2 separate regions of the Homo sapiens genome follow, and region 2 is linked to region 1. Evidence: fine-mapped expression QTL. A gene starts in region 1. The other region holds a variant in brackets. All regions are shown on one strand. Distances are from middle to middle. Region 1 holds the start of P2RY6 (pyrimidinergic receptor P2Y6). Region 2 has its middle 26 kb from the start of P2RY6.

Evidence for each region.
Region 2: its variant is fine-mapped to the expression of P2RY6 in tibial artery (GTEx, PIP above 0.99).

What each region holds. Positions count from the first base shown.
Region 1 is chr11:73,270,599-73,273,509 of GRCh38, forward strand. It overlaps P2RY6 (pyrimidinergic receptor P2Y6), which reads left to right and starts at 1,740. Exons shown (of 3, transcript NM_001277204.2): 1 at 1,740-1,868. RefSeq lists enhancers at 1-185, 186-978.
Region 2 is chr11:73,244,829-73,247,739 of GRCh38, forward strand. No RefSeq gene overlaps it. Among named protein-coding and RNA genes, the nearest start is that of P2RY6, 26 kb to the right of the region's middle. The variant C/CT (reference allele first, on the strand shown) is at 1,617.

The DNA.
Region 1 (2,911 bases):
TTGGGGATTGGTTGAGGGATGTGCTCCCTCTCTGGACCACAGAGGAAGCAGAGAGCTTCCCCAGGGCTGGGAGTGGGGCACAAGCTCGGGATGCTCCCTGCCAAAGCGTTGGTGGCCCTGAGTTGCTGCCTGTGCCCAGGGAGTCCCAGTCTTCGCACTAGCCTGCTGCTGAGATCCACTGAGGCAGAGCCTGGCACAGAGTGGGGGCTTGGGGCCTGGGGGAGGGTCTCCTCCAGGCTAGGTGGCTGGGAGAGGGTGATCTGGCAAATCTAGATGGGGCCTGTCCACCTGTCCGAGGCTGCAGCCCCCTAGCTCTCCGCCCCTTACCCTCCTTTATGTTTCTATATCGCTGCTCTTATCACTATCTGGCCTGCTATATATTTACTCATTAACCAAAAGAAACTAATCTCCCCTGCTAGACTACAGGTGTCTCAAGGGCAGGACTTTGTTTTTTGACCTCAAGTGCGTTGAACATTACCCGAACAGAGTAGGTGGCCAATAAGTACCTGTAAGAAAGAAGAGGAGGAGGAGGAAGCAGGAGAGTCATCTTACAGACGGGGAGGGCCCACCATGGGCCCAGGTAGAGCCGCCCGGGCTGCCTTCTCCTCATCAAGCCCAAGCTCAAGGATGGATTGGCGCTGGGGAGGGGAGGATTGCCTGGGGTCAGCCTTTCCCCCCCGGCATCACCCTCCATCTTCGGTGCTGTAGCAGGACGAGCCGCGGACAAAACCCTTCAGACACTGAGATAGTGAAGGGAGTGGCTTTAATCAGCTGGGAGCATCGGCAGGCTAGCATCTTAAAATCTGAGCTCGTCAGGTGCTCAACTTCTGTCCCTTTTAAGGGCTCACAGCTCTAAGGGGGTCCACGTGAGAGGGTCGTGATCAACTGAACAAGCCAGGGGGTACATGATAGGGACTGCGAGCACCGGTGGTCAGAGTGAAACAGAACAGAACGGGAGGTTTCACAATGTCCTTCCATACAATCTCTGGAATCTATAGATAACAACAGCTGCTAGGTCAGGGGTCGAATTTTAACTACCAGGCTTAGGTCAGGCAGGCCCAGGCCTGGTTTCGGGTCTGGTTCCTTGGTTTCGGGTCTGGTTCCTTGGTTTCAGGTCTGGTTTTTAGGCGCCGGGCTACCTGCCTTTAGTTTCGCTTCTCTTTCCTTTTCCGAGTATAAAACAGTATGAGAGGGTCTCTCTCCTCCCTCAGTGCCATCCTCATCCCTGGGTGGGAGTTGTCTGGATCCATAGGGTTGGAGCCACAGATAACAGAGCCATTAATCTCGGGGTCTCAGCCTCTCTTAACGGACCTTCCAGGCACTGCTGAGAAAACCAGGTTAATGGTTTCCTGCGGCAGCAATGAGCAGAAGCAGGGCCATCTCCAGACTCCAGAGAAGCCAGGAGAGGGCTGGGGTGATAATGGGGAGGAGGATAAAAAACAGCCACCCAATGCGTGCCTTCCCTGTGCCAGGCCCTTGTCCTGAAATGTTATCTCACTCCATCCTCCCAACAGTCCCTTGGGCTAAATTGGTGATGCTGCTTGTTTGAGTGAGCAAACAGAGGGTGAATGAAGTGACTTGCGGGCAGCTGGGTAGAGGATGAGTCAGCATTGGTGTAAAGGACTGGAGCTTCAGGGTTCTCGGGATTCGAGTCCTGGCCCTGCTGCTTGCCAGCTCTGTGCTGTGGCAAGTTACTTCCTCTCCCCAGGTCTCTCGGTTTCCTCATCTGCTGCCTCTCCAGACTTCTGCCAGAACATTGCACGCGACAGTTTCAGGCACAGAACTGACTGGCAGCAGGGGCTGCTCCACGAGTGGGAATTTGCTCCAGCACTTCACGGACTGCAAGCGAGGCACTTGCTAACTCTTGGGTGAGTTTTCTGGGTCCATGCCTGGAAGGGCTTGCGCCCCTCAGCTCCCCTAGGAGCTTCCTGAGTAACTGCAGTCCACTTGCAGCCACCGAGGCTCATCACAGGCAAGAGTGGCAGTAGGGCAGGCACTGGGGTCCTCCTCCTTCCTCCGCCTGGCTATGCCTGGAGCCTGCAGACTGCACAGCATGGAGGGACGAGGCACCGCAGGACGGGGTCAGTGGGGGCGGGGAGGAGATGGACACATTGGTGCTGCGCCGTGCCTTGCTGGAGAAGTGGAATAGCTCAGTCAGGATTCGGAGCCACAAAGGTCTTGGTTGGAGTGCAAATGGCTGGCAAGGGCACTTTTCCTCTCTGGGCCTCAATTTCTTACTCTCTAAAATGGGGGCAACCGTGGTCTCTCCCTGCGTATGTGAACACTGCTAAGTGTAGTATCTGGAGAGGGGTCCTCACGGAGGAGGCTGGGCCCTGCCCTCAGAGCTCCCCAGGAACTTTGGTTGAGGGAATGAGTAGGAAGGATTAGTGATCAAATAATTGTCCACAGAGGAGGCCCTTGGGAAGCCTCTCACCTCTGCCATTCCAGCTAAATCTTAAGACAGCCTGGAGCTGGCCCCGTGAGAGTGGTTTGGAAAAAAAAAAAAAAAAAGTCCCTGAGTCCAGGTGTGACTTGTTAAGGGTGAAAGGGCCTATCTGGGAGAGCTGGGTTAAAACTTTTCCAGAGTTTCTATTGCCATTCAGCTCTGCTGACACCGACACAGAGAAAACAGGCAGCCCAGCCCATGCGTTCAGCCCCGGCCTCTTGAAGATATTTGGGACTCTCATCTCTTGCCAGCTCTAGAATGGGTCATATTCAGGGAAACTCTCCACCCCTCAGTATCAATGAGATGAAAAATGAGAAGGCCCTTTGCAAACTATAAAGTGTTGTGCCCCAGAAGGTGCATCTGTGTGTGTGCCAAGCCCCTGGGTGTGTACGTGAGAGTGAGAATGCCCAGCTTCCAGTGTATGTGTGTGTGTGTGACTGGCTGGGTGGGTGGAACTCTACACTC
Region 2 (2,911 bases), 26 kb before region 1:
GGATTGTGAGGACATGAAGGTTGCAATTTTAAATAGGGTGGTTGGGTGAAAAGGAGGCATTTGGGCAAATACTTGAAGGAGGTGTGGGAGTTAGCCAAATGGAAAAGAGCTCCCAGAAAGAGGGACCAGTAAGTGCAAAGCCCTAGGGCCTGCAGCTGGGGTGGAGTGGGCCTGGAGGGGAGGAGGGGAGGCCAGAGGTCGGGGGAGATCTGGTAGGACATTGAATGAGAAGGGAAGCCATGCAAGGTCTGAGGAGGAGACAGAATCTGACTTACATTTTAGAAGGATTGGTCTGTCTGCTGTGCTGAGAATAGACCACAGTGGGGCAAGGTCAGAAGTAATGACTACAGGGAGGAGCTGTTGCAGAAATCCAGGTGAGAGCTCAGGCTGAGGACTGGGACCAGGTGGTAGCAATGGAGGTGGGGAGAAGTGGACCAATGCCAGATGTATTCTGAAGGAAGAGTGAATGGGATCCTTTATGGATTGGATGGAAGGAGGTGATAAAAGAAGAGGGGGTGCAGAGGATGCCTACAATGTTTTGTAGACAGTGACCCTGAGATCTAGAGAAGATGTAGTGTGAGGCCACACAGCTAGTCAGTGGGTGGGGGTGGAGGAGAGGAGGATGGGACCAGGGTGGCGGGAAGGTCCTCAGGTCTAGGACAGCATCTGGGAGAGGATAGGGGGAAGGACTCTGGCATAGCTGGTCACAAACCAGCCCCAGGGCAACTGAGCATTGATTTGATCAATGGCTTTTTCCTCTTCCCTTGAATTCCCCTATGATGGCCTTTTAATTGGGTCCATTTGTTCCAAGGCCGTGGGCTGAGCTGAGCAGACGCCAAATGATATGCCTATTATTAAATAGATTAGGAAATGGCCCTACATCTTGGGCGGCCAGAAAAACCAGAGTGACTGAACAGTGTCCCTGAGGAGTAACACGTGTATTGTGGAATACTGGATGTATTGCAGAATCCCTTCCAGGCACCTTGCCTTTCCTATGCTGTCCCTGCGTCTACAGAATCCTTCTGACTTCCTTGCTCACCTGAAATGTGTCTCCTCCTCCAAGATTCACTTCAAATCCCCTCCTCGGTGAAGGAGCTGAAGGAGCGCGCTAATCGCCACCCCTCCCTCAGCCTGCCTGAGCTACTGCCACAGAGAACTCACACATCTGCCTGGCAAGAGATCCAACCTGAATTGGAGGGTCTGCCCTAGGGGACACTGTCCAAGTCAGGGTTGTCCAGGGAACAGGATTACCCAAAGAACATTTAAATAACAATCCCACTTCAGTAAAAAAAAAAAAAAAGATGTCTCCATTTCCTGAGCTGGAGTCAAAAAGGGTGGCTGGGAGGCAGCAGAGAAGAGGAGTGAGTGTAAATTCCGTGTGATGGAAATGAGTGGCAATTTAAATTCGACTGGAGAAAAAGAAAACTTTCATGTCAGTATCAAACTCAGACCATTTTTAAAAATCGGTTTCTTCCATTTTAGACATTATATACTGGTTTCCTTTTGTGAAATGAGGCTTTAGTTCTCTTCCTTCTCTCATTCTCCCATTGCAATTTTTGATTAAATATTCAGTGCTTCCATTTTTATGATGTCAAAAATGTTGCTCACAGTGACAT[C/CT]TTAGGGCATTCTATGTTTATATTTTCTTTCTTGCATAACTTTTTGTTTTTCCTGGAATTAATAACTGCCTCACTGTACATTCCTAAGAAGGACATATTCTAAGGACAAAGAGAACTAACTCTAAAGAAATCTGAAGCAGTCTTTGTAATCATATTACAAGTACGGTTACCCCTGAACATCATGGGCTTGAACTGCATGGGTCCACATATATGCAGATTTTCTTCTGCCTCTGCCACTCCGGAGATAGCAAGACCAATCCCCACCTTCCACCTTTTCCTCAGCCTACTCAATATGAAGATGAGAGGGATGAAGAACTTTATGATGATCCACCTCCACTTAATGAGCAGTAAATATATTTTCTCTTCCTTATGTTTTCTTAATAACATTTTCTTTTCTCTAGCTTAATTTATTATAAGAATACAGTATATGATATATGCAACATACAAAATATGTGTTAATCAACTATTTATATTTTCGGTAAGGCTTTGGTCAACAGTAGAATATTGGTAGTTAAGTTTTGGGGGAGTCAAAAGTTATATGTGGATTTTCAACTGCGTGAGGGGTTGACATCCCTAACCCCTGCACTGTTCAAGGGTCAACTTTAATACTATTGATGGTGTTAGTTTGAAACTATTACATGTAGTAGGATATAATGAAAATCTAATTATGTTAATGTCACTGGAAACCAACATTTTCAACATAAGAGAAAAGAGATACGAATATAAAATCAAAGAAGAAAAAACTACTATCAGTATAGTCTTGGATTTGGAAACATCTGTATAAACTCATGATGCTTTTTTCTCTTTAAAAAGTATTCTCTATTTCTAACTTCTAAAAAGGCCTGGGAACAATAACTAGCCCTGTGATGCTGAGCACCTCTAGTACCCGCTTCAAAGGTTCTAAATGTATTTCCTATTAAAAGGAACAAGGGCTTCTTGGAGAAATGGCTGATTCTGGGTTCGTGGCAGGAAATGCATAAGATGGGTTCAGAATATTTTGTCATACAAAAAGCAAGTTGTCAGCACTACTAACGTTGTGTTTAAAGGACATAAAAACCAACTTGAGGACTGTGCTGCACAAAGATGGGGTATTTTAAGTATCAAAAAGAATAATGCCTACGATGGATTGAAACATACAAATCTGAAACTTGTGTTTCAATCTATGAGTTTATAATGATACTAAGAGCAAACAAACAAGCAAACGTGTAGGTCTGTTCTGTAGGTTGGTAGCTTATCAATGTATTATTCTGAAAGGCAGGTTAAAAGGAAAAGAATCTGTCTTTCCTATACAAACT